Linked DNA regions of Homo sapiens: regions 1, 2 and 3 are each reported to be linked to region 4. Evidence: microRNA targets listed by miRTarBase, many of them from high-throughput screens and not tested one by one. Region 4 holds a microRNA gene; each other region holds the end of a gene's coding sequence.

Evidence for each region. Region 4 holds the annotated microRNA hsa-miR-6127 (UGAGGGAGUGGGUGGGAGG, at 4,896-4,914, opposite strand). A microRNA usually pairs through its seed, bases 2 to 8, with sites in the 3' UTR of a target mRNA and lowers its output. Matches are read on the target gene's strand: a 7mer-m8 pairs with bases 2 to 8, a 7mer-A1 pairs with bases 2 to 7 and ends in A, and an 8mer does both.
Region 1: miRTarBase lists SIGLEC10 as a target of hsa-miR-6127. Seed matches in the 3' UTR shown: 7mer-m8 at 1,454-1,460.
Region 2: the mRNA of RAB6B is a reported target of hsa-miR-6127. Seed matches in the 3' UTR shown: 7mer-m8 at 2,015-2,021.
Region 3: the mRNA of ZDHHC3 is a reported target of hsa-miR-6127. Seed matches in the 3' UTR shown: 7mer-m8 at 4,989-4,995, 7mer-A1 at 2,495-2,501, 7mer-A1 at 1,645-1,651 and 8mer at 1,199-1,206.

What each region holds. Positions count from the first base shown.
Region 1 is chr19:51,405,346-51,412,463 of GRCh38, reverse strand. SIGLEC10 (sialic acid binding Ig like lectin 10) reads left to right here. Exons shown (of 11, transcript NM_033130.5): 11 at 1,093-2,444. The coding sequence ends at 1,365. Among named protein-coding and RNA genes, the nearest start is that of SIGLEC10-AS1, 6.8 kb to the left of the region's middle. RefSeq lists enhancers at 3,014-3,514, 4,532-4,581.
Region 2 is chr3:133,822,195-133,829,312 of GRCh38, reverse strand. RAB6B (RAB6B, member RAS oncogene family) reads left to right here. Exons shown (of 8, transcript NM_016577.4): 8 at 461-5,078. The coding sequence ends at 525. It also overlaps a transcript of SRPRB not described here. Among named protein-coding and RNA genes, the nearest start is that of SRPRB, 20 kb to the right of the region's middle.
Region 3 is chr3:44,920,863-44,927,980 of GRCh38, forward strand. It overlaps ZDHHC3 (zDHHC palmitoyltransferase 3), which reads right to left. Exons shown (of 7, transcript NM_001135179.2): 7 at 1-5,985. The coding sequence ends at 5,827. Among named protein-coding and RNA genes, the nearest start is that of TGM4, 50 kb to the left of the region's middle.
Region 4 is chr1:22,628,433-22,635,550 of GRCh38, forward strand. MIR6127 (microRNA 6127) reads right to left here and starts at 4,934; the gene lies at 4,826-4,934.

The DNA of each region.
Region 1 (7,118 bases), not on the chromosome of region 4:
TCCATCTCTATCCCCATCTTAGCAAATAACACCACATTTTCCCAGCCAAGTCTAAAGCTTTAGAATCATATTTCACTCCTCTCTTCTCTGTCACCCCACAACCAATCCATCAGCAAATTCCCTTCAAAATACAACCAAGCCAGTTCTCCCTACTCTTCCCTCACTACTACAAGCCATGCATCAACACCCCCCACCCCACCCCGGGCACCACTGGCCCCTTCTGCATGCCTTCTCTGCTTCCGTTCTCACCCCCTCCAGTCTTTCTCTCCGTGCATGCATGCTATTCTTTATTTTATTTATTTTTATTTTATTTTATTTTTTGAGATGGGATTTCACTGTTGTTGTCTAGGCTGGAGTGCAGTGGCAAGGTCTCGGCTCACTGCAACCTCCACCTCCTGGTTCAAGCGATTCATCTGCCTCAGCCTCCTGAGTAGCTGGGATTACAGGCATCCACCACCATGCCCCCCTAATTTTTGTATTTTTAGTAGAGACGGGGTTTCACCATGTTGATCAGGCTGGTCTCAAACTCCTGACCTCAGGTGATCCACCCGCCTCAGCCTCCCAAAGTGCTGGGATTACAGGTGTGAACCACCGTACCCGGCTATCAATTATTTTTTTGAAACAGATTTTGTCTCTGTTGTCCGGGCTGGAGTGCAGTGGCGCAGTCTCAGCGCACTACAACCTCCACCTCTCAGGTTCAAGTGATTTTCCTGCCTCAGCCTCCTGAGTAGCTGGGACCACAGGCATGTGTCACCACGCCCGGCTAATTTTTGTATTTGTGGTAGAGACAGGGTTTCGCTATGTTGGCCAGGCCGGTCTTGAAATTCCCTGGATGACCTATTAAACAGTCATCCCACCCTCCCTTTCGCTGCCTTCTAAAGGTGCTCAAATTTCTTGATGGCATTTGTCACTTACCAGTCATTGTACTTTTGCTAATTATTGTCTGTTCCTCCTTCCAAGATGGAATGCAAGCTCAGCAAGGCAAGGGCAGGGACTTAGTTTCACTCTGTGCTGTAAATCAGTGCCCGACGCGTGGTAAGTGCTCAAATATTTGCTGAATGAATGAATGAAGGATGGTGGTTCTTCCCTCAGGCTCAGAAGCGGAATCAGAAAGCCACACCAAACAGTCCTCGGACCCCTCTTCCACCAGGTGCTCCCTCCCCAGAATCAAAGAAGAACCAGAAAAAGCAGTATCAGTTGCCCAGTTTCCCAGAACCCAAATCATCCACTCAAGCCCCAGAATCCCAGGAGAGCCAAGAGGAGCTCCATTATGCCACGCTCAACTTCCCAGGCGTCAGACCCAGGCCTGAGGCCCGGATGCCCAAGGGCACCCAGGCGGATTATGCAGAAGTCAAGTTCCAATGAGGGTCTCTTAGGCTTTAGGACTGGGACTTCGGCTAGGGAGGAAGGTAGAGTAAGAGGTTGAAGATAACAGAGTGCAAAGTTTCCTTCTCTCCCTCTCTCTCTCTCTTTCTCTCTCTCTCTCTCTTTCTCTCTCTTTTAAAAAAACATCTGGCCAGGGCACAGTGGCTCACGCCTGTAATCCCAGCACTTTGGGAGGTTGAGGTGGGCAGATCGCCTGAGGTCGGGAGTTCGAGACCAGCCTGGCCAACTTGGTGAAACCCCGTCTCTACTAAAAATACAAAAATTAGCTGGGCATGGTGGCAGGCGCCTGTAATCCTACCTACTTGGGAAGCTGAGGCAGGAGAATCACTTGAACCTGGGAGACGGAGGTTGCAGTGAGCCAAGATCACACCATTGCACGCCAGCCTGGGCAACAAAGCGAGACTCCATCTCAAAAAAAAAATCCTCCAAATGGGTTGGGTGTCTGTAATCCCAGCACTTTGGGAGGCTAAGGTGGGTGGATTGCTTGAGCCCAGGAGTTCGAGACCAGCCTGGGCAACATGGTGAAACCCCATCTCTACAAAAAATACAAAACATAGCTGGGCTTGGTGGTGTGTGCCTGTAGTCCCAGCTGTCAGACATTTAAACCAGAGCAACTCCATCTGGAATAGGAGCTGAATAAAATGAGGCTGAGACCTACTGGGCTGCATTCTCAGACAGTGGAGGCATTCTAAGTCACAGGATGAGACAGGAGGTCCGTACAAGATACAGGTCATAAAGACTTTGCTGATAAAACAGATTGCAGTAAAGAAGCCAACCAAATCCCACCAAAACCAAGTTGGCCACGAGAGTGACCTCTGGTCGTCCTCACTGCTACACTCCTGACAGCACCATGACAGTTTACAAATGCCATGGCAACATCAGGAAGTTACCCGATATGTCCCAAAAGGGGGAGGAATGAATAATCCACCCCTTGTTTAGCAAATAAGCAAGAAATAACCATAAAAGTGGGCAACCAGCAGCTCTAGGCGCTGCTCTTGTCTATGGAGTAGCCATTCTTTTGTTCCTTTACTTTCTTAATAAACTTGCTTTCACCTTACCGCCTCGTCTTGAATTATTTCTTGTGTGAGATCCAAGAACCCTCTCTTGGGGGGTCTAGATCAGGACCCCTTTCTTGTAACACAGCTACTTGGGAGGCAGACGCAGGAGGATCACTTGAACCCAGGAAGCAGAGGCTGTGGTGAGCCAAGATCACACCACTGCACTCCAGCCTGAGCAACAGAGTGAGACCCTGTCTCGAAAAAATAAAAATCCTCCATGGATAGGCCATCTCATCCCAGACCTGGGCATTCGGAACAGCCTGACAAATCTGTCCTGAATGGCCTTCTCTGAATATGGTGTTCTGAGAAGGCAGGCAAAGATTTGCCTTTGACACACCCCAGCTCCAGTCCAGAGGACTGCGCAGTTTCATGGGTTCTCAGAGATGGGAGGGTCTTTAAAGATGACTAGATACAGCCAGGCGCAGTGGCTCACGCCTGTAATCCCAGCACTTTGGGAGGCTGAGGCTGATGGATCGCTTGAGGCCAGGAGTTTGAGACCAGCCTGGCCAACATGGTAAAACCCCGTCTCTACTAAAAATACAAAAATTAGCTGGGCGTGGTGGTGCGCAACTGTAGTCCCAGCTACTCGGGAGGCTGAGGCAGATTTGCTTGAACCCAGGAGGCCGAGGTTGCAGTGAGCTGAGATGGCGCCACTGCACTCCAGCCTGTGCAACAGAGCGAGACTCTGTTTAAAAAAAAAAAAAAGACTAGATAGGCTCCTCAGTCACCTCCAGCCTGCTGCCTATTTTCATACCACCTGCAAGCTAGAAATGTTTTTACATTTAAATGCTTGGGGAAAAAGTCCGAAGAAGAAGACTCTTCTGGGGCCCCTGGGAAGGAGATGAAATTCAAATTTCAGTGTGGTGCCCAACCATGCTCATTCCTTTACACATTGCAGTTATTTTCATGCAGAGTTGAGTCACTAGCCTGCAAAGCCTAAAATATTTACCATCTGATCCTTTACAGAAGTTGGCTAGATCTTAATCTACATAAACTCATTTGTTTTCACAGAAGAGGAAGCGAGCGCAGAGGTCCATAAAGAGTTCAAGAGTAGCCGTGGGAAAAATGACTAGGTCTGTGACTACAGGAAGGTTTTCAGGGTGAGGATTGGAAGGGCAGGAGACTGCATGTGGATGGGGTGCTAATGCGCTCTCAGACCCACAAATCTAAAGAAGTGCAAACGCATGCGGGGATGGAGGTTGGAATGCTTTGGAAATGGAACAATGACAAACTTACAACATGCTAAGAATCACACAGTGGCTCACGCCTGTAATCCCAACACTTTGGGAGGCTGAGGTGGGCGGATCACCTGATGTCAGGAGTTCAAGACCAGCCTGGCCAACATGGTGAAACCCCGTCTCACCTAAAAAAATACAAAAATTAGCCAGGTGTGGTGGCGGGCACCTGTAATCCCAGCTCCTCGGGAGGCTGAGGCAGGAGAATTGCTTGAACCTGGGAGATGGAGGTTGCAGAAGCCGAGATCATGCCACTGCATTCCAGCCTGGGCAATAGAGTGGGACTCCGTCTCAAAAGAAAAGAAATAGAGCAAAGGAGAGCACTTTGCTGGCCATCTCCTCTGCTGACCTCTGCTCCTCCATAGCCACCCAAGGGGCCTTTCTTCGGTAGTTATTGCATCGTTGGTGACATGGCAAGGTGGCCCTCTCTGGTGTGTTTTGTTTCCTGGCTGTGCTAAACACTCCAGATACTGAAAAATAAAAAATTAAAAACTGAGCTGGACACGGTGGCTCACGCCTGTAATCCAGCACTTTGTGAGGCCGAGGCAGGCGGATCACTTGAGCTCAGGAGTTCGAGACCAGTCTGAGCAACAGAGCGAGAGCCTGTCTCTACTAAAAATACAAAAATTAGCCAGGTGTGGTGGCAGGTGCCTGTATTCCTCAGCTATTCAGGATCCTGAGGCATGAGAATCGCTTGAACCTGGGAGGCAGAGGCTGCAGTGAGCTGAGATCGCGTCACTGCACTCTAGCCTGGGTGACACAGCGAGACTATGTCTCAAAAACAAAGAAAAAACCTGAATTAGCTGCAAGGACCAAAGTTGGCCACCAGACGTCGGTATACCCAGGATGATAGGACTATAGACTCATGGTGTGGAATGGGATCACCCAATGCAGCCACCTCATTTTACAGAAGGACTTCAGAGAGGGACAAGGTCTTGCATGTCACACAGCTGAACTCCAGAGCTGGGATTCAAACTCAGGCCCAGGATGGGTGAGCACTGCTGGTTACACAGTCTCCTTTAAGCTTAGAGTGGGAAGGATGCTGCAAGGGCTTGAGAAAAAGGGAACTCCCTACAAGCTGCACAAAGACTGAGACTCTGCTTCCTTCCTTCTACCACCAAATTCTGCCATGAGAGCAACCCTTGAAGATCTGTTTGACCTGGGAAATTACAAGATTGCATTGCTAAGGCACCAGGTTTGACTAGGTGTCAGTAACTTTGAAATGTGTGTGTTAAGGTCCTGACTTCTGCAATAGTGACTTGGGACTTGGAGGGAGGGCATTGTTATCCAGTACTCTTGGGGAAAGGCAATGTTGTGCAAATGAAAACAAACAAACAAACAAACAAAAACACCAGGCTTGGAGTCAGAAAACCCAAGGGGAACTTTCCGTATTGCCAAATATTCTTTTTCTTTTTTTTTTTTTTTTTTTGAGACAGTCTCGCTGTCGCCCAGGCTGGAGTGCAGTGGTGCAATCTTGGCTCACTGCAAGCTCCGCCTCCCGGGTTCATGCCATTCTCCTGCCTCAGCCTCCCGAGTAGCTGGGATTACAGGTGCCTGCCACCGCGCCCAGCTAATTTTTTGTATTTTTAGTAGAGACGGGGTCTCACTGTGTTAGCCAGGATGGTCTTGATCTCCTGACCTTGTTATCCGCCCGCCTCGGCCTCCCAAAGTGCTGGGATTACAGGCATGAGCCACTGCGCCTGGCCCCCAAATATTCTTTTTAACCAGTCAACTGGGACATTAACTGCAGGAAGTATGAATATAAAATAGTTATATGTTTTCTGATCACTGAGTCAATCATGTTTTTTTGTTTGTTTGCTTGTTTGGTTTTCGTTTTTGAGACAAGAGTCTTGTTCTGCTGCCCAGGCTGGAGTGCAATGGTGCGATCTTGGCTCCCTGCAAACTCTGCCTCCCGGGTTCAAGCGATTCTTATGCCTCAGCCTTCCGAGTAGCTGGGACTACACGTGTGCGCGCCACCACACCCAGCTAATTTTTGTATTTTTACTACTAGAGATGGGGTTTCGCTATGTTCACCAGGCTGGTCTCCAACTCCTGACCCCAACTGCTTTGCTTGCCTCAGTCTCCCAAAGTGCTGGGATAACAGATGTGAGTCACCGTGCCCAGCCTCCTCTGTTTCTTGATATGAGAGTTGTGTCCCCTGCTTCTCCCATACCTTCTCCAATTCCACCATTGGCAGACACCATGCAGCCTCTTACCGCTTTCTTGGGTGACATATCACCTAGATTGCAGAAGCCCAGCTACCCTCCTTCGTGTCCATCCACCCCCTGCTATAGACAAAATGTATGTGTCCTTCCAAAGTCTAGGTTGAATTCCTAACCCCCAATGTAATGATATTTGAAGTCAAGACCTTTGGAAGGTGATTAGGTCATGAGGGTGGTGCCCTCATAAATGGGATTAGTGCCCTTAATAAGAGACCCCAGAGAGCTGTCCCTCCTACCAAGTGAGGACACAACCAGAAGGCACCATCTGTAAGCCTGGAAGTGAGTCCACATCAGACACTGAATCTGCTGACATCTTGATCTTGGACTTCCCAGCCTCTAAAACTATAAGAAATAAATTTTCATTGTTTACAACCCATCCAGCCTATGGTATTGTTGTTATAGTAGCCAGAAAGGACTCAGAAACCCACACATCCTAACCATGCTGGACTGTGGAGTGCAGGCTACACTGCCCCAAGCTCCTCGTTGCCCCCAGCTTTTCCTCTCTAATGCTCCTCTCCCCTGCGCAGGGAGATGCAGGGCACAGCAAGAAGTTGGCTGCCCACACAGACACCCAATGGGGAGATAGTGTGTTGATTCCTCCCATTCTATCAGGAAACCCTAGTCTTTCCTAAACATTTTCTTGGAGCACCCCCTCCTATCCAGAGCCCTGGTACACGTGAAGAGTTCAGGAAAGAGAGGATGATGAAGCATCTCACCAAAGACTTCTCACCTGTCCAACAGCCAGCTGGCAGCTTTGTTTTTTTGGGAAGCTAGGCAGAGAGAAGCTTTCTGACCCCATTATTGGCTGCCCTCTTTAAACCATTTAAGAGGCAACAGAAAAAGTCCTATTCGGGGCGGGGCACAGTGGCTCACGGCTGTAATCCCAAGACTTTGGGAGGCCAAGGCGGGTGGATCGCTTGAGGTCAGGAGTTCGAGACCAGCCTGGCTAACATGGCAAAACCCTGTCTCTACTAAAAATACAAAAATTAGCCAGATGTTGTGGCGGGTGCCTATAATCCCAGCTACTTGGGAGGCTGAGGCAGGAGAATCACTTGAACCTAGGAGGTGGGTGTTGCAGTGAGCCAAGATTGCACCACTGCACTCCAGCCTGGGCAACAGAGTGAGACTGCATCTCAAAAAAAAAAAAAAAAAAAAAAAAAAAGAAAAAGAAAAAGAAGAAAGAAAGAAAGAGAAAAAGAAAGAAAATGTCCTATTCC
Region 2 (7,118 bases), not on the chromosome of region 4:
CTAAAGCTTGAAGGGTTTGCTCCTGCTGCCAATTAGGCAAGGCCCACATACCCCTGTGCTTTGAGATGTGAACCCAGCAGGCTCTTCATCTCCATTGCACTTTGAGTGGGGCTGACAGGTAACTGGGCTGAGGCCAGGGCTGGGAGCTGGCATTTGAGCACTGGTCGAGGGAAGGCTTCTGGGAAAGGGACTCCCTGGCCTTGGTATAGATGGTGATCCCACGGCCCAGGCAAGACAGGCTTTGCTTGGGTGGACAGGCGCTGGGGGAAGTGGACGGGTGAAGGGAAGAGGAGGCAAGGTGGAGTTGGTATTGCATCCTTCCTAGCCCAGCCAAACCAAGAGCCAAGTCCCTAGGTGTTTGCAGAGAAACAGAGCAGTAGCCAAAGGGTACAGTGCACAGGGCTAAGTGGGGTGGCAGCTTGTCCAGGAGAGTCATCTTCCTTAGCCCGTCCCCCTGCAGTGATCGACATCAAGCTGGACAAACCCCAGGAGCCCCCGGCCAGCGAGGGCGGCTGCTCCTGCTAATGCAGAGCCGACCTGTGGCTTCCCATGACACTCCTTGCTTGTTGTGTTGCTTCCTATTGGCTAGCTTCCTAAGGGGGGAGGGAACCGAGTTATCAAGATGGGAGGATTTTTCTTTTCTCTCTGTCTTTAGGAGTAGGGTGGGATGGGGAGGGAGGCTGGGCATCAGGGATCACATCACTCTTAACGGCTGTTACTTAAACAACTATTTTTTGGTTTGGTTGTAATATATTGTACTTTATTAAGATTGCCAAAAACTGTTAAAATTTAAAAAAAATTTAAATCATGTGTATACAATTTTTTGCCAGATAAAAATGTAGTCATTTTTATTTGAAAGATGTGCTTTTTGTTTTTGTATATTTGTAAACTTATAGAGAACCTTTTCCACACACCTCCTCCTTCCTGTTCTCTTTGAACCATTCATCACCTCTGCCTTCCTCCTATCCCCAGCCCAATAAATTAAAACAATTAACTGAGCAAATTAATTAGGCTTCAGTCTGGGGCCATCTGGCCCCACTCTCTAGGCCCTACTCCAGTTAAATCAAACATTGGTTGAACACATCAGCCTCTGAAAAGGTAGCTCTGACTCTTGTCTTTCCATGGCCAGAGTGGGTCGTCAACCTCGTGTGGAGCTGAGACCAAGGTCTGTGGGCTCTAGGCAGCCCGGCAGCAGCCCCCAGAGGAACTGCTCCCACCTCTCCTTCTCTTTCCCTGAAAAGCCTTGAAGGGGGTTGAGGGTACAGGCAACCTTGTGTTCTCTGTGCCCTCAGGGACTGGCAGAGCAAGAGGCCATCAGAAGGACGAGGTGCTGTTGGCAATTGCAGCTGCGTGGTGCGTGGTTTATAGACTGGGGTGCCATGTGTACTTCTGAAAATATTTTAACCAGCCCACCCAGCAGTCAGTACACATGCCTGGGCCAAGTCTAAGAAACTCAGTGTGTGATGTTGGGCAGTGTGCCATCCTGAAGCCTTCCTCCTGGATGTCAGGGAAGCTGGACCACCTGGAGTTGATCCTCTGTGATGGGGAGGCGGGGGGGGGGGGGGGTGTTGTCTGCAGAACCACCACCTTGAAAGATCCATGTTCTTAGAGCCTCAGCTGCTAATATTGTTGAGTGCTTTCTGGAAAAGCTGATTTGTTGCTATGTTTTCACCCCAGTGGCATGGCGCAGTTGAAGTCTTTGTGGACATATCTTTGTGGCTACTGTGGCTGCGCTGTGGTCACCTGAGGATGTGGTTCAGGTGGGGTCTCCAGAAGGCTGCTTGCCCCCAGAGAGCCATCTCTTCCATTTTTGATTCATTCCTGAGAATGGCTTAGTCCTGAGAATCTGCAAAGTCTCTGAAGAGAACTCTCTCTTCCCACTAAGTGATATAACCTACTTGGCCAGCATTCCAAATAGACTCAGACTCACTGCCCTGAGCCTGCACAGAGCCAGGTGCAATGGGCAGTGAGTCTGGCCAAAATGTAAACCCCACCCTCCCTGCTGTCATTGGCTCTCCCTCCAGGCTGCTGCTGGGCATGTCATAGATGGGATGAATGACCATCTGGGGTATGGTGGGCTGAACTCCACAAGGTCGTTGGAATGAATTTTGAAACTTCTCAGAAATTAATCTGAAATGGCAGGCAGTAAGTGCAGCAGAATCTGGCAGGACTGATATTTGTGCAGTGGGCCTGCCACACACCCTCTGCCTAGGAGGCTGTATGCCAGAGCTCATCTCTAGCAAGGAATTTATCTTCAGGTGAAGAAGAGAGGAAGCAGGATCCCACTGAGCACCTCTTGCAGAAGGCAAGGACCAATGTTTGAACGTGTTTCAGATGTCATGTGTTTAGTTTTTATATGTGTGTACATAATTATATATAGAGATAGACTTGTGTATACACCTTCCACAAACACATCCTCACGGAGATACATGTGCTCAATGTATATTCTTGTTTCTCCTGCTCTCAAGTTGGAACTTGCATTGTGATAAGTTTTGGAAATTCAAAAGTACTGCAACGTGTTGAAATAAGAAATACTTAATATTGTCAAATAACTTGTGATTGTCTTGCCATCAATAAAATAATGCATAGTTGTGTTAAACTACAGGCAAACATAGCCCACGGGAATATCTCCACCATTTCTCTATGTACTTTATATGCACGGGTGTGCATGCCTGTGTGGGCCAGTGTCCCCCCACCATGGGCACACCCCCAAGTGGTGCTTGTTGGAAGAGTGCTTACTTACCTCGAGAGAATTTACAGGAGTCCACATGACAGTGTCCTGCCTGGTTGGCAGCGGGGGCCATCACCTGTGGCCTCTGAGACCGCCCCATTTACAGGAATCTGCACTGGGTCTCAGTGAATGAACGTATGGTAGATTTTTATTTTCTTGGCACTAAAGATTAGCTTTTTTAAAAAAACATCCCATAAAACAGTAGAAACTCAGTTCCCTTCTCAGGGGCACACACATCCAAGGCACCGTGGACTGTGTTTCCATCCTGGCCTAGAGGAGCAGTAAAAGATAGCATTTGGTTTGACATGGCCTTAGTGAGTCCTGCCTTTCCTAGCATGCACACAACATCCTCTCTTTGAGTTTGGGTTCTCCCCAGCCCCTTGGCCTCTGAGGCTGAGGGTGGCTTCCTCCCATCCTCCCATCTCAGTGGTTCCATGGCGCTCCCTTCGGCACGTGCGGTTTCCGCCCCTCCCTTCCTGGGGTGTGGAAAGGCAGCCAGACCTCTTTTTCAGAAGTTGTTGGTTCCCTGATTTTTGTCTTGAGCAGGCACCATCCCTGTCCCCTTGCTTGCAGGTAGAATTGGCACAGAGTTAAGGTTCCATAATAAACTGTTAGGTGCTCTTGAAGAAGATGTCATGGCATTGCCTCAGCACCCCAGCAAGAGCATTGCATCTTTGCTGAATCCAGATGGGTTAGCAGAGGGCAAATTGGAGGATTCCTTTGAGGAAATGTTCTCAATTGAGCAATTCAGTCCCTCTCCCCAAAGACTAGACGTGACCTGGCAGATTAGCAGGATCCTCTTGGCCTTCTTTTTTGGGGATGGTGGGAGTGAAGGGGGTGAATCTTAAAAGCTTATCAACAAAGCTCCTGTTCTGCAGGCATCAGGAAAGTTGAGTGTAAGATGGAAAAAGCAAACAGCCTATTTACAAGTGGAAACACATTGGTTCTGATCACTCCTAACTTGCTGGGTGATCATACATACATCAACATGAAGGTGTGACATCAGAATCATGAGCACCATGGCTGCAGTTGTGTGATCCAAGGCTAGTTGGCTTGGTAGCTGTTGGCAGCAGTTTCCCTTGGTCAGAGGCCTCCTTGCTATCTATCGCTGCTCTCTTCTTGTCATCCTTAAACATTCAGTCATGTTCCCAGGTCTGAGGGGAGCAATGGCCAGACCAGTTTCAGTATCTCTGGCAACAGAAACAAGGATTGAAATGGTGGTAGTTAAGAGTGCAGACACATCTGGGGTGCAACGTCTGCATCATCCTGGTGGCTAGCCAGTGCGGGGAGGCCCTGCCCTGGGATACCAGTTGTGACAATAAAGGGATGGCCCTCCTGGCTTCAGCATCCTGCAGGTAGAGCAGCCTCATTCCTTCACAAGATGGAAGGCAGGTGAGGATGTCAGGATGAGATGGGACCAGGTAGCCGAGGACAGTGAGGCATGTCTGAGCCACTTGAGGGGCAGCTGAACAGAAGGATGTCTGTGTGCATCAACCGAGCAGATTGTGCGCACACTCGTTTCCGAACTGCCTCTCCCCAAAGAATGTGAGGCATTGTCACCTTGTTACAGCTATGTGAAGCAGAGCTGTCACAACTTTTCCTGTCTACAGGCAGGAAAACCAGGATGGAGAAGGGCAACTTGCTTATTAAGATCACCCAGCAAGTTAGGAGTGATCAGAACCAGTGAAGTTTCCATTTTTCATCCATTGCTGCCCTGTGTGTGAACAAATGTGACTCCATATTTATTACACAGCAAGGACTGCTGTGTGTGGGTGTGTTCCTCAGACCATCTCTACTCTTTTTGGTTAGGACACTAGGTTCTTCCCAGCATATGAGTGAGAATATTGGTGGTATTTTGGGCTCCTCTACTGCACAAGGGCCAGTCCCCAAGTCTACTCTGATTGATTGTCATGGGCACCCACACAGATCAGGACACCCTTTGAATTTTTGTTTGACATGAACTATTTAGGTGTTCCAAAACCTTGGGATCTCAATGTGCAAACTCCTTGGACTCCAGACCCCTGTCTGGTTGGCACTCCCAGCAGTGTGTGGTTTCATCAGGAAATCCTTGCAGCAGGGGTTTAGATGGTTCCTTCAGGAGGTGGGAAGCCTCCATAGCATTGAAGGCCAGCCTGCATCTCGCGGTGTGTGTCCACTTCTCCCCTCACTTTCCCCTCACCCATCCCTTTAAAGTGATTGGCTGTGAGGAGCACAGAGGGTGGCAATTCCATCTGTTATGGGCTCAGAAGACATAGCCGCCATGTTGATTTCACATTAAACTGTGTAAAATGTGGAAAAGACTCAGCATGTTGGTCAAACAATAAACTGTCCTAATTCTCAAAACAAAGCTTCTTGTCTGTGTTTAAGTGGTGCAGTCATAAATGGGGGGGTTCAAAAACAGTTCCTGAAGTGTGTGCTCCACAGAGTCCCTTTTGTCATGCCTGGGTGGTATGTCCACTACCTAAAGCCCTTTGCTGCTTTGCTTCTTCCTCCTACTGGTGGAGTTGGGCTGTCCACCAACTCCGAAGGGGTAAAGATGGGACACACTCATGAGAGTAAATCCACACGCATTCCCCTAATCTCCATTCTGCTGAAAGGCTGATGGGAAGGGAGCCTCCAGGCAGAACTGAGTCAGGGGTACGATATATTCCTTCATCCCCACTCTGCTTGCCATGGCTAGGGGATTAGGAAGGGGGGAGAGGGTACAGGGACTGGATCTCTCATGCTTCTGGTGATTTTCAGAAAGCCATTTAAAGGCAAGAACTTAAGGTGAACTATAATGACCTTTGACAACATCTAGCTGCCATATTCCATCCCCAGCCCCACACCACACCAGTTAGGAACATCCCTGAGTGGCCCCTCCAGGTCTCAGTTATCTCCAGACTAAAAGATGCTCAGAAAGCCAGCACAGTCCTGGGACCAATCCAAAGAGGAACAAAGGCCAAGATTAGGTAAATTGCCCTTGCCCGGGAATCTCACTCTTCTTCAAGTCCAACTTCACTAATTACCTTTCCTTTTAAAGCTTATAAAGGTTCCAGAACACCCTCCAATCTGCTGCCACCTCAAGGAAGCCATCTTTGATTAGAAGAGACATTGAGGCCAGGAGTTTGAGAACAGACTGGCCAACATGGTGAAACCTCATCTCTACTAAAAATTAGCCAGGAGTGGTCCCACAGGCCTGTAATCCCAGCTACTTGGGGAGGCTAAGGCAGAAGAATCACTTGAACCCGGGAGGCAGAGGTTGCAGTGAGCCGAGACGGCACCACTGCCACTCCAGCCTGGGCGACAGAGTGAGACTCTGTCTCGACAAAACAAAAAAACCCTTGAAACAATATATTCAAGTCAACAGAACATGGCCATGTGCCTCACACATCAGCATCATGGGAACACTGGCACTTCAGAGGCCAGTGGAAAAGTGGCAGTCCCGTTGGGGCTGCATGGCTGGCAGCTGACCACAAGCCCACACAGCGCTTAGGAGTCAAGTGCAGCAGTGATGGAGCTCACACTACTGAGAGAGCAGGGAAACCACACTGAAAGGGCACGTTTCTTAACCTCAGAATGGGGCTACTAGCCTCTAAAGCAGGAATTGCGTTTTGTTTAGTATTTCCATGGTCTGCTGCAAGGCGTGGCCTTTACCCAATGGATAAATGCGTACAAGGCTCTTGTGAGCAGTCAAGTTTCTCGAGGTTTACAGTTGAAGGGAAGTGGGATTGTTTTCCTGCGCATTTAAATGAAGGTAGGTGGGTGATCACCTTTCCTTAAATGTGTGAAGGGATGAGATAAAGAGATAGGCATCTTAATTGCCACTGATGGCCTTCAGGTGAGGACAGGCATGAGCCAACTGAAGCTTTGACAATTGTGCTGAACCCAAAACTTCAAAAACAAGAAAAAACATAGACTGGCTGAAATGATCTAAGTCAACAGAGCATGGCCAGCGCTTCATACAAGGCAGGACCACAGGGGAACACTGACAGCCCAGGAGGCACTGAGACAGAGGCAGTGGGAAGAAGTGACAGACCCCAGGGACTCCCCACCAACAGCAGCTGCTGTTGATTAGGAACCCCCAGTAGACTGTCAGGCACCTGGTAGTGGAGAGGCTACCAAGGCCCGGACTGGAGAGGAGCCAAAGGAAGAAACAGTGCAGTGCTTAGACCCCTCTGGGTCTGCCCGTGTCCATACCCACTAGGGAGATTCCATTCCAGAAGTGGACATATTCACCAACAGAGTGCCTGGGGCTCACTCATCACAGCTGCCCCTCCATGAGGGCATCTCACTGCAGCCTTAGCAGGGAACAGGGTCATTTGCATTAGGCAGCTGCTGTCCTAGGAGGTCTCGGTGTCCATACACTGCCATGTTCCCAAGGTGTTTCAAGCTCAAAAGTCTCATC
Region 3 (7,118 bases), not on the chromosome of region 4:
CAGGGAGTGTTGACTTTTGAGTCTAGAAAGAAAATATTGCAAACAAATCCGATGTATAAAAATGGGCTGAGGGCTGCTTTTTCCTGGTAGGACTCAATTTTGAGTTTTGTGTGGATTTAAAGGGATCCTGCAGGCAAAGTTCTTAAGCTTGAGGTTTGCAGAGGAGCAGTAATAGTAGCTTCAGGCTCAAGAGAACGAACAAAAATGGTTGATGCCTGGTAAGGGGGTCATAGTCGACACCAGAAGCTCTTGCAGGGTGTGTGATGGGCCTTTTGGCCCAGGTCAGTCTGGGTGACACATGAGCTGTGATCTGTGAACAAACTCACCAACACTCCAAAATGAATGTATTAGGACTAAGGCTCCCGAGGAAGGAAGAGTCTGTGCAGAACAGACTCAGCTGAGCCCCACAGAACGAGAACAGGCTGTTCCCTGCTCCCTGTATCATCAGATGTAGAAAGCCAGAGCCTCAGGGAGCAGCCTATGCAAATGTGTCTCTTCATAGCGGGCCAGATAACACTGTCTCTCCTCATCAGAGATTTCATACCTCTATATTGTAACCCACAAGAGGAAACATTTTTCTGTTGCATTCCAGAACACATATACACACAACTCCCTAAGCTTCATAAAACAATACTTATCCTGCAATATGTAATGCATTAAACATTTTTCTTGAAAAACATGCTGGTTGCAAACCATGAATGGCTGTGACCAATGGTTTGAAAAGCACAGCTCCAACACAGCTAACATTTATAAAGCCATACCAGGGCCAGACGCTATACATTCCTATTCATCACCCTCATTTAATCCTTCCATTAACTTTGTGATTTAGATTATCATTCCCGTTTTCAGATGAAAAAACTGAGGCTTAAAGAAGTTACTGCTCAAGGTCATATTTTGGTAGTAGGTGCGGTAATAAGTAGCCAAGCAGACATTTCAACCAAAGACTGAAGCCAGGACCCAAATACTTGGTCACCAGACTATATGGCCTCAGCTGCAGAAATTCAGGGCATCCTTATGTCCGTGTTAGAGCATGTGCGGCCCCTAGAAGGCTTTTAGCGAACGTCCCTCTGCAGCGCTTGTCCTCACTCCTTGGATCAGCTTCATCGGCTCCTCCTGTGGGCCCAACAGAGCGGGATCCCTGGGGGCCACTCTGCTTTGCTACGGCAATCACACTGCTCAAGTCAGCAAGATGTTTACTTGAGGGAGAGGGTGAGAAAAAGAAGGTTCAGGTTGGGAGTACGCTGGTCAGTGGCTTGTTTCTGCTTCACTGTGAATTCTTTCTCTTCTATGAGGTGATCCTAAGCCAGATACATATTTAAAGAATACAAGAAAAAGCCACATGGGTGTTGAAACCCACACGTAGAAAGCAAAGGTCAAGACGTGTTCAGGTCATGTATCCAGGCTGCTACAATGCCCCTGGCTCTAGACTACTCACCGGCCGCCGCTCCCATCTGGAGGTCCCTTGGTTCTACTCTTTTCTCTTTCCCTTCCGGGCTGCTTCTTCACCCAAAGGGCCCTTGGTCTAGAGATGGGTTCCACTGATGAGATGCACAAGGAGTGGTGGGCAGGCTAATAATTTGGATCTGCTTCATACAGACTTTCTTTGATGTCTTGGCAGTTGTTTGTTGGGGAGGCCGCAGCTTATGAGGGAAGGCAGTCTCAGTGGCTTCTCCGCGGAGGGAACACGTGCCTGTCTCACAATCAGCACACCCCAACTGCACTATGCTGAGCCCAGCAGCACACAAGACCCATATCACCAGCAGGCATCAGGGACCACCTGAGGGGGGACTCCTGCTAGCCCCAACTGGATTCTCAAACTTGATAGTCAGAATCACCTGGAGGGCTGTTAAGACACGGGCTGCTGGGCCCCGCTCGGTTTCTGGTTCGGTAGCCTGGGGTGGGGACCGAGAATGTGCATTTCTAACAAGTTCTCAGGTGATGCTGATGTTGACGTTGCTGGTCTGGCAACCTCAAGAACACCTTTGAGGAGGATTCTAGCAAAATCTTTCTCTTTTCACATTTCTTTGATATCTAAGGGCACCTTCTAGGTGGGGCGCCTTCCCCTCTACTGGCTGGCTCACCCTTTAAGCTGATGCACTGCAAGTCTTGAAAAGAGAGAAATTTAAAACCCATTAGCCTGGCTGAGAAAGCCCATCCCAGCCCACCCGGAGAGGAGTTTCTGTGTAATGCCAACCTCACATACATGTTTAAAATGTTTGTTTTTTTTTTTTGAGACGGAGTCTCACTCTGTCGCCCAGGCTGGAGTGCAGTGGTGCGATCTTGGCTCACTGCAAGCTCCACTTCCCGGGTTCACGCCATTCTCCTGCCTCAGCCTCCCAAGTAGCTGGGACTACAGACGCCTGCCACCACGCCCAGCTAATTTTTTTATATTTTTAGTAGAGACAGGGTTTCACCGTGTTAGCCAGGATGATCTCGATCTCTTGACCTCGTGATCTGCCCGCCTCGGCCTCCCAAAGTGCTGGGATTACAGGCGTGAGGGATGTCCACAGTGAGAAGTGTCCGCGCCCGGCTTAAAATGTTTGTTAATTTACCTCACCTAAACGGTTTCTGCATTAGGGGACGGTGGATTCTAACTATTTAAGTGGCCTAGCCAGATGAGCAAAAGCTAATACTTGGGGCTTTTTCAAGAAGTACAGGGCTGGGCCCAGTGGCTCACGCCTGTAATCCCAGGACTTTGGGAGGCTAAGGCAGGAAAATTGCTGGAGGCCGGGCATTTGAGACTAGCTAGGGCAACACAGTGAGACCCTGACTCTATTAAAAAACAAAAAAATTAGCCAGGCATGGTAGTACGTGCCTGTAGCCCTGGATATTCAGGAGGCCAAGGCACAAGAATCACTTGAGCCCAGGAGTTCAAGGCTGCAGTGAGCTCTAATTGTGCCACTGCATTCCAGCCTGGGTGACAGAGCAAGACCTTGTCTCAAACAAAAAAGAGGAAGTACAGTATGAAGAAGACAAAATGGTGGGACTAAAAGGAGATTTAGCACATGCACTTCTACCCAAATGTGTTTTGTGTACATGATATTACCAAGCCCATGCAAATATGCATAGATTATAGATTTGCTTGGATCTAAGCCTTTTGCATATTCAGTCTAGTTGCTATGAACACAAACCTGACAGAGTTGACAGAAGGAAAGCAAGCTGGGGATCACAATCCAACAAGCCACATCTTTATTTTTCACTTCCACTCCCCAGAGCCCAGGCTCTGAAAGACTGTGGCTACGACTGGTTCAATTTCCCATGAGTGCACCAAACAGTACTATCAGAACTCCTGTGACCAAGCCAAAAGTTGGGGCTGACTTTGTGTAGAAAGATGTCCTCTTTCATTACATCCGGAAATACTGAGGAGAGCTCAGGGATGCTTTCCCTTCCTGTCCTGTGTGGAAGCCAGGCTGGGAACCAATCACTACCCTGCAAATGATGGCTACATTCCTCAGTCATTGTGCTCTTGGCAAAATATCAGTCTGAACAAAAATGAAATAGGAAAAATGCCAGGAACCTTGGGGTATTCCTATCTTCTGAGAGCAACTGGTTTGAGAGCTCAGAAACATTGACTCTTTCTAGCCAAGGCCTATACAAAACCAGAGGCAGAATCCTATAGGATATCTGAAGGAACCCCACTCTATTGGAAAGATAAGCATAGTATGCACAGCTTTAAAGGAGGAGTTTCTATTTTTAGGACTAAAAAAAAGTCAGTGCATCTTCAGCACTATCTACTGCATTCCTGAGAAATGCCAGGGGAAAAGAGCTAACCTGGCTCACTTTAAAAAATGCCCTGGAAGATGGAGTATTACCAATCTCTTCCCCCTAGGGGAGGGCCAGAGCTGTAGCCCTGCTCTAGTTATTTAATACAATAACACTTCTTTCATACACCTAACTGAGCTGTATGTTATGAAAAAATTTTAAAAAAGCATATGGAAAACAAATGCTATCAACTTGATCTAAAACAGCATTCTTTTCTTTTTAATCTTAGCATCTCAGCCTCGCCCGTATCGCATGAATAGCACCGTAGACACGAGGTAAAGTTAACTGACTCAGGAAAGCTCTTAGGAGAGCCCATCAGCACAAAGGAATTGATTCAGGCTGCAGAAAGCAAAGGAAAGAGGCCTGGTGGGGCAAGCTGGTTCAAGAGAGGGACCATAAATGCATTTTAAAACAAAAAAAATAAAGTATCCTCATTCAAGAGACAGAGCAATGAAACAAACACCCAACCAGAGAAAACTCAAGTAGATTGTGGATAGTCGGCCTCCCACTAAGGGTAACACCTCAAGAGAGAGCTAAATCAGAACAGGTTTTGGAAAAATTTTATTGCATTTTGTTTCCATGTGGAAGCACTGACAGAATTGAAAAGTGGCAGCATGTTCCACTTACTTTTCTGAAAAATCACATGGCTAGATTAACTTTCGCCCTACCCAGGACAGGATTGAATAAACCTTAACTCCTACCCCCACCCCAAGCAAAAGCTAAAAAAGGGGGTTTCTGGCAATTGCTTAAAAAACAAATCAATGTGTGAGAATTCCCCGATGGTCAATAATCATATTTGTTATTTTTGCACTTGGAGGGCACTCCCTACCTCCTTCACCTCTATCCACCATCACCACCTCCTTCAAACAAGACTGACACAGGAAGTGCCTCTCAAATGGAAAATCTATTCTGTCCCAGTGCCACAGGCTTAGGTGTGTCTGTGGATTCTGGCCAATGGGATGGCCATATGTCAACTTTGAAAGGGTGGGGACTGTGAGGTAACCCCAGCATCATGGTCATCTCCATGCCAGGACAACAGTCTCCCAGGTTAAAATATAGATAAGACACAGGTACGTGCACATTTATGGGGGTTAACTATCAGAAAGTGAATCCACTTTGAGGTTTATAAAATGAGAAGGGGATGATGGTGGGGCTGTATGTGTTGGGCACTGGTGCCTATTGCAGTCAGAATTCACACTGCTTAATTGACATCTTGCTGGGGAAGAGAGGGAGATGGGGTGGTGAGAGAGGAAGCAGATGAAACAAAGGAAAACGTAGCTTGCCTGAAATTGTGTAATTTTTTTTCCTCTTGATTGTATAAGGCATTTTGAACTGGAAAAACGTCTTTCCTACACACTCTTCCAAATAATCACAGGGAATATAATTGCTGATTCAGAATACAAATAAGACCTCTTTCATCTTTCTCCCCACTCCCCCGCAAAATCATTCTACACACCCCAAGCCCATAAAGTACAAGGCAGGCAATTGCTTTGCGAGTTAGCAGGCAAACCGTGTCCACTTGGGGGATGAGGTCGCTGTGCCAAGGTCCCTTCTGATCCTGCCCTTCTCAGGCCTCAAGGGGTAAGCATCCATCTTCGGTGAGGTTTTATGTCCCATCGGGGAGCCCGCCACTGCCTCCTGGGCAGTGGGAGGTCAGGGCCCTCCTGGCTTTCCCATGCATCCCCCACCAGGTGTCCAGACTATTCCATCCACGCACAGCGTCATGTCTCACTCAGTTAGTAGAATGGGCACAGCGCGAGACAGCGCCCTCTACATTAGTCATGCCAGACAGACAGCAGAGAGAAACCAGAGGCCAGAGAAGTGATTTTAAAAGGAAAAGAGAGCAGCTTCGGTCACCAAAAGAAATCGAAAGGATGGTTTTTAAAAAATAAAATGTGGGGACTTTTTTTTTTCTCTGCAATGCTCAGCCATTTTACTTGAGACATAAAAAAAGTTTTAAGAGTAGTTGTTTTGCTTTTTCGATTTAAACATTCATGAGAACGGATGGGACGGTAGTGCTGTGGTGTGGACTTGTGTCTGAGTGGCCATGCCGGTCGGGGTCCTTCAGACCACATACTGGTACGGGTCTGCCTTCCCTTGGTCTGGCGTGGCAAAGGGGCTGGCCCAGCCTAGAGAGAAGGGGTGGCCAAAAACGGCTTTCATGTTCATCCATTTTGTTTTTTTAGCCCATCTTCTCTCTTCCTTTTTCAATTGTTCTATTCCCTGAAAACAAGAACAATCATACTTTCAGTCAAGCACTGCATTGCTGTGGTTTCTGGGGAGGGATGTCCGCAGCGACAGGTGAATGGAGTAAATGTTTCCTTTTTAAAGCAACAAAGCTATCTACCTAATATATCTTTCTCATAAAAAGTGTTACTAAAAAAATTTCTCCTTTTTTTGGTGGGCACTCATTCACAAGTCCCTCCAAGAAGGGAGGGAAAAAGAAGCACTATCAGCAGCGCAGAAACTGCTGCTTGTAAGTATGCCAGGCCGGGGTGTGTCGCTAAGATAAGGAGCGCGTCTCTCCAGCCCTGGCCCCTTGTTGAGCTCTGCAGAGGCACTCTTCAGAAACTCTGTGCTGGGCTGTGGATGGAGTACTATGAAGGCTTTGGCGTGAGAGGCCTCAGAGCTGTTGGGGAGCTCGCAATCATCATAACCAATGATGGCCATTAATTTGGGATAGGTTCCTAGGAAGTTTGAAGCTACCATGACCACCTTGCAGACAAAAAAAAAGTAACAAATCAAATGACTGCTCTGGCGTTGTGTGTCTCACCAGCCTGGGGGATCAAGCAGCACCCCGCTTAGTGGGCCTGGTGAGACACAAACTGAGAAGGTTGAATAGGAGTGACAGACCACGAATGAGGGGAGAAGTCACCAGAGGAGGAAGGAGGAGGGATTAGTACAGGTTAGAGGGTGGCATGGCCAGGCCAGCCAGCATGGCATGGCAAAGGTCCTCCTAGTGGCTCCTTTGGGGAGAAGCATGGCGCAGACCTATGCAGCAGCTGTCACGGAGCCAGCGCTGCTTCCCCTGCTAAGTCTCAGGAAAAAACTGGGGCTGGGGAAAGAGCTGCTTCCTCCCTCTCTCTCTTCTTCAGATGGAGCTGGTCAAAGGGCAGGGCTTGAGAACGGGGCCCCTGCCCAGAGGGAAAGGACAGGAGCAGCCTGGCAGAAGCCTGGCCAGGGGTCTGTCTGCTGTGGTCTCTAGTAAAGGGGTGCTGGGAGGACAGCTGAGTCTGGGTCTTTCTTCACAGCCTAGGGACCTGGGAAGGGCACAGGCCAAAGGGAAGACACCCCTTCCCAGGTGGGGCAGGGCCCTCCAGCTTTCTCCTTTCCTTCCAACACAATTCTCTTTAGGA
Region 4 (7,118 bases):
CCTGGCCAACGTGGTGAAACCCTGTCCCTACTGAAAAAAACAAAAATTAGCCTGGCATGGTGGCGCGCACCTGTAGTCCCAGCTACTCGGGAGGCTGAGGTAAAAGAATTGCTTAAACCTGGGAGGCAGAGCTTGCAATGAGCTGAGATCGTGCCACTGCACTCCAGTCTGGTGACAGAGCAAGACTTCATCTAAAAAAAAAAAAATAGCCAGGTGTCGTGGTGTAAGCCTGTAATCCCAGCTGCTTGGGAGGCTGAAGCACCAGAATCACTTGATCCCAGAAGGCAGAGGTTGCAGTGAGCCGAGACCACGCCACTGCACTCCAGCCTGGGCCACAGAGAGAGACTCCGTGCCCAAATATAAATAAATAAATAAATAAATAACTATTCAATTTACCGGCTGTGTGACCTTGTGTGAGTCACTTACCCTCTCTGAACCTCAGTTACCTCATCTGTAAAAGGGACTGTCACCATGCCACCTCCCCGGGGATTCTGATGATGAAGTGAGGTCGTGTATTAAGCACCCAGTAGGAAGTCCAGCATTCAGTAGGGCTCACAAGGAAGAGCCTATTAGCATCTTGCAAACATACCACGGTGAAGCATCAACCTCAAAACACCCCAGAGAGGACAAGGCTTACCCTGTGGAAAGAATGACTACAGGAGGAATTTCAGGTCCTGTGATGGGCAGATGAGGGAGATCATTTGCACTCCAGGCTCTCCCTGGCCACTCTCTTGTGACCCTCATGCCTATGTGAGCTCCTTGGAAGCTAGCATCTCCCAGCAACCTGGACGTCAGGCCCAGCCCTCTCAAGGTGGAGGTAATACCTCCTTGTTGGCTCCCACAGCCCGATCTGTTTGTTTTCCAAACTCTTAGTCCTCTTAATCTTTTTACATCTTACCTGCCTGGTGGCTTCCGGCTATATTTGCCTGTGGGGAATGTCTCCAGAGCAGCTCCACCCAGTTCCCCTCCGGGCTGGGCTGCCTCCCTCACAGGCATTCAGGGTGTTGGCTTCCAGCTGGGGGGCTTTATTTCTTCCTATTTTTCTTCACTCTCCCCTGCCAATAAATCTTTTCTGTCTTCTTTTTTTTTTTTTTTTTTTTTTTCCAAATTTTCTTTCATGCACCGGCCCTCTGAGTGCCAGGTGAGAGTAGGAGGAGGTAAAACATTGTGCTAAGAGCCTACTGTGTGCCAGAGACCAGCCGCACTACTGTCTGGAAGCCTGGCATAGTTTGAGGTCATCATTCCCAGTTTATAGGTGAGGTGCTAGAGCCCCAGACACAGGAGGTTACTCGTGCAAGATCACACAGCCAAAGAGAGACACACACTGAATTTGAACACATGCTGCCTCCATCTCCGCAACAAATGATCTGTTGTTTACAATCCCCTCTGCGTTTCATAAAATAATCCCAAGAAGTGCTTTTATCTGCCAAGAAAAGTAAAGAATAAAGAGTGTGCACAGACAACACATGGCAGTTCTCTCACACAACAGCTCCCTCCCCAATTCCAAATGCCTCCCCCAACCACTTGCTAACAAAACCCTGATCTTATTGGGTGGTGGGGACAAAGAATGGAAGGATAGACCCCAAAAGGCCCAGAAGGAGGGTTTTGCAAGAAAGGCGAGACTAAGACAATCTCCATAATAAAGAACAGAGAGCAGGAGAGTCAGGGAGAAGGAGGAACAGTGGCTCTGGGCAGAGGGGCCGGGAGATTTTTTTTTTTGCTGGAGACAGGAAGTTGAAGACAGAGGTCTGGAGGAGTGGATGGAAAAGAGCAAAGAGCACTGGTGTCAACTCTATGCCTCCTTCCTGGTGTTCAAATGTACAGCAGAGAATTGAGTGTATCTGTTCACAGGGCTGGGTGGGGCAGAGGACTTGCACCAGAATGTTCTTAGCAGCTTTATTCATCATAGCCCAAACTCTGTACCAACAGAAGGGACAAACAAAGTGTGATACTGCATATGCATACGATGGAATAGCACTCAGCAATACCACGCAAACTGACACACGTAACACAGATGCATCTCACCGGCATGCTCTTCAAAAGAAGCCAGACACAAAAGAGCACAGGCCGCATGATTCCATTGACATGAAGTTCAAGAACAGGCAGAAGGCACCAATGGTGAGGGAGAGCAGAACACCGGTTACTTTGCGGGTGGAGGGGAGCACTGTTGACTTGGAGGGTCACGGCCGCCTCGCTGGGGAGATGGATACTCTGCACTCTGATCTGAGTGGTGGTAGAGGGCCTGTGCGTGCAGGTGTAAGCTACTGAGCAGTGTGCTTGAGATGTGCACATTTTACTCTGTGCAAATTATGCCTCATTTTTTTTAAAAGAAATATACAAGCACCTTAGAGTCGCATTATATACACACTTGCCTATCTCCACTTCGCCTAATAGGACTCAGAGAGAGAATCACAATTTAAGTAAGGCAGGGGATATTGGTTTTTTTTTTTTTTGAGACGGAGTTTCACTCTTGTCGCCCAAGCTGAAGTGCAATGGCCTGATCTTGGTTCACTGCAACCTCCACCTCCTGGGTTCAAGCAATTCTCCTGCCTCAGCCTCCCGAGTAGCAGGGATTACAGGCATGTGCCACTAGGCCAACTAATTTTATACTTTTAGTAGAGACAGAGTTTATCCATGTTTGTCAGGCTGGACTCAAACTCCCGGCCTCAGTTGATCCACCCTCCTCGACCTCCCAAAGTGCTGGGATTACAGGCGTGAGCCACTGCTCCCAGCCAGGGGATACTGTCTTCTAAGAGCCTATTTCTGGAGGGACCGTGGCTGGGAGAGTTCTGCTGTCCCCAAGTCTGCCTCCGCTCCTGTGAACCCCTCATGATCTAAACACCTCACCTCCAAGGGTGGCTCCAGTCTCCAAAGATTCAATTCCTTTGTGTGTGAGTGGTGGGGGAATTGGTTAACCTTAACCAACTGGTACTCAACTGAAGAAAAAGAAATCTGTTCTACTATTGGAGCCAAAACTGACAGCAAAAGACTATTGTGAAACGGTAATACAGTCTTTCACGTGGCGCTGTTTGAAGAATTTTTCCACCATTTACAATGGTGATACTCACCATTTACAATGTTTGCCTCGTATGCCGATTTTGCAACACAACCCTTGAATGGGATGTGACTGCCATAAAGAATTCAAGTCATTTAAAAATTATTTTTTGGTTATTTATTTGACCTTTGATCCCACTCTGAGACTGAACCTCATGGATCATAACTGTGCAAGCATGGCTAGGAATTTCCTCTCTTCCCCACATCTCCTGCCTCCCGTCTAGGAGTCTGGGCTCTGGAGAAATGGAAGAATATGCCCTTCCTCTCCGCCTGAAGGTGTCCCTGTTGTGACATGCACAGGGCCATTGCTGACCCTTTTATTTCTCACACTAATGATATGCGCATTAGTATCGATGTCTTTTATTTCTTGGGAAGTGTTTATACTCTTGCAACAGCCTGATAAGTAAAATCATCCAACACTTGGAAATAAGGCAAATAGATAACCGGTGTCCTTTCAAAGTCAAATGAGAGCTGTATCTAACAAACCCTGCTAAGGGTCATCTGACACTCTAGGGGAATGTCACTTGGCTTGACTTATTATTTACTATTGATTAGAGCCCAGATTCAGTAAAGATAGCTGTTAACTGGTAGAAAACTGTTAAGTTGCAAATTATTTTTGTCTAGTAGAGATGCAAATGATTTCTTTTCAATAGAGAAGATAGCCCCAACATGATGATTTTATTGCCCTATAGAACACTAACCAGTTTTGTATCTAATTTAGCAATTTTATGAATATTCCAGAATTCTTGTTGTTTTAACTGACTCTCTCTGTCTCCATATATAGGTATACATATATATTTTTTTCCATATCCATTGAACTAGCTTTGTCACCCAGCTGGTTCCTCCATTAACAACCTACAAGAGGACACTGACACATTCCCACACTGTATTTCTATAGGAACTGGGTATTCAATATTTTGAAAACTAGACTTTGAGAAGCTTTTCACAGTATCTGATTTTTCCTCTTGCCAACTCTTGCCCCTGTCTGTGTGACCCGGGCAAGTCTTTTTTTGTCTCTGGTCCTTTGTGTCTTCAGAGTAAAATAGGGCACGCAGGGCTGGCGTTTCTGCCTCGGGCATGTCATGTTTCTAACTCCTCTGGCAGGCAAGCAGGGCTGACGCAATGCAGTCAAAGAAGATGGATACTGGGCCGGGCGCGGTGGCTCACACCTGTAATCCTAGCACTTTGGGAGGCCGAGATGGGCAGATCACCTGAGGTCAGGGGTTTGAGACCAGCCTGGGCAACATGGCAAAACCCCGTCCCTACTAAAAATACAAAAATTAGCCGGGCGTGGTGGTGCACACACGCCTGTAATCCCAGCTACTTGGAAGGCTGAGGCAGGAGAATCTCTTGAACCCAGGAGGCAGAGGTTGCAGTGAGCTGAGATCGAGCCACTGCACTCCAGCCTGGGCAACAAAGTGAGACTGTCTCAAAAAAAAAAAAAAAAAAAGAAGAAGAAGAAGAAGAAGAAGATGGATACTGGGCTGGGCGCGGTGGCTCACGCCTGTAATCCCAGCACTTTGGGAGGCCGAGATGGACAGATCACCTGAGGTCAGGAGTTTGAGACCAGCCTGGGCAACATGGCAAAACCCCGTCTCTACTAAAAATACAAAAATTAGCTGGGCATGGTGGTGCATGCGTGCCTGTAATCCCAGCTACTTGGAAGGCTGAGGCAGGAGAATCTCTTGAACCCAGGAGGCAGAGGTTGCAGTGAGCTGAGATCCAGCCACTACACTCCCACCTGGGCAAAAAAATGAGACTCTGTCTCAAAAGAAGAAGAAGGAGGAGGAGGAGGAGGAGACTGGAAGGGATGTTAGAGGCCATTTGGGGCAGCCTTCCCACCTCCCACCCACTCCCTCATCTTGGTAGATGGAGAAAGTGGGGTTCAGAAAGATGAGATAACTTGCCCAGGGTCACACTGTGAGTTAGGTATGGGCTGAGCAGATGAGATTCCAGCTCCACGAACTTTCTGAATCCAGGGAGCATGGGAGGGGCTGTCAGGGGGAGCTCTGGGCCCCCACCCTTCAAGCCAGTATCCCCATTTTTATCTGTTTGACATACATCAGATGCCACACAAGATTGCAAATGAAAAAGAAGTCCCCAAAGCTCAAAAACCCTGGCTCTAGACCATCCTTCATCTGCCCACTTCAACAGCCTTCCCTTATCTCCTCCCTCCTCCTCCTCTTTTCCTCCTCCTGCCTCTGGCAAAATTTTCAGAAAACAAACAAACAAACAAAAACATGCTCATGAGAAGAAGCAGACAGATGTGGTCAGCCCAGGCCTGAACACATTGGTCTCCAGTCTGGGAGAGACAGAGCCTCTCTATCTAAAGAAAAGCATTCTCAGGGTCCAAGCTGACAATGATGCAGTGTGCCGTGCTGACAGGTAATGAGCATCCCATCAGTTAAGGTGAGTAAGGCTAGATGATCTGTTCAAACACTAGCAGCAATTGTCTCTAGATGGTAGAATTCACAGGCTTTTGTTGCTGGGTTTTGTTTTTTGTTTTTTTTTGAGATGGTGTTACAGGATCTTTGGGGTGTCATTTTCTGGCCGGAAACCTCTGTGGCTGGTGGCACCTTTGCCCAAGTTTTGCTCAGGCCCACTGGGCTTGTTTCACTCACTCCTCCTGGCAGGCAGCACTCAGCTCACATTACCAGCCTGGGTTCCACATCTGCCCAGGGCAAGTCAGGCATGGAACAGTGAAGGGTGTGTGAGTGAACATGGGGTCTGGCCACTGCACACAGTCAGACATGCCGGCTGCTGCAGCGGGGTGAGCAGCTCCAGGTGCCAGCATGGGCGCCAGCTCTCTGAGAGGTTGTGGCTAGACCAAGTACACCACAAGCAGCTTCCACAGCTGGCACCGGGGAACACGGTGGCACCCAGAAGCTTCGAGATGCCAGGAACCACAGGGCCCCGAAAAGGGAGTCACAGCTCCAGCTTGGGGAGCTCCCAGGTCTGGGTTCCCCAGAGGGCCGCAGCTCTTCTTTCCTTCCCTTCACCTGCATCATGGCAAGCAAGGGGCATGTTTCAGCCTTGTTTGTGTTACAGCTCTTTCAGCCCCACCATTTGATGGGTCCCAAGTTCTTATCCTGCAACCAGGAAGAATGAGGTATGCAGACAAGTGGGGAGTGAGCAAGACGAAGAGGAGCTTTACTGAGCGATAGAACAGCTCAGCCTCCTGCAGAGCCTCCCTCAGGGGGCAGCTCCTTTCCACAGCCAGGGTGTCCTGATGAGTGTTCAGCTGCTAGCAGAGAGGAGACCCTGGAATGGGAAGCTCCTCTCTGCAGGCAGGTCATCCTGTCGACTTTCCAGCTCTCAGAAGAGGGAAGACCCTGGAATGGGAAGCTCCTTTCTGCAGGCAAGTTGTTCTGCCATCTCTGCAGCTCTCAGCAGAGAGGAGGCCCTGGAGCGGGTAGCTCCTCTCGGCAGCTGGTCATCCAATGTCTGCCCAGCTCTGGCTGAGCCTGAAGCTTTCATGAGCCTCAGAGAGGAGGAAGTGCATACTGATTGGTCCATGGGTGGCTATAGGCAAGCCCAGAAAATACACCATAAGTTCCCACTCTGGTGTGTGGGACTGGCAGCCTGGCCCCCAGCCTTGAGGCCCTCCCTGGCTTGAAGGTAGGGCCTCACCAGGGACCCATCCCCTTCCACCCAGGAGCCTGTCTGTCTCCTGCTGCTGTTCATGGTGCCCAGGCTGTTCATGCCAAGGAGCGTCTGCAGGCCAGTGCCGAGCTGCCCTCAGTTTCCCCTTGGCTTTCCTTCCATGCTAGTCAGTGCCCAAAGTCCAGAGGGGGCCAAGGCAGCAGGGGTCTAGTGTGTCAGCACTGCCCCAAGCATGCCCACACCCAGCCAGGCTGCGACAGCACCCAGGCTCAGCACCAACTTTGCTCTAAGATCAGAGTGGGCGCCAAGAGGAGGGAGAAGCCAGGCAGTGGGAGCAGACACTTCTGAGCCTGAAGGGTGGGGCGGGGGGCCTTCCCGGGCCCCCAAGATTGCAGGGATGCCTGGGTCCACAGCTGCAGTTTAGGCAGCTGCAGCTGCATGGGGGATGGCGGGGGCCCCCA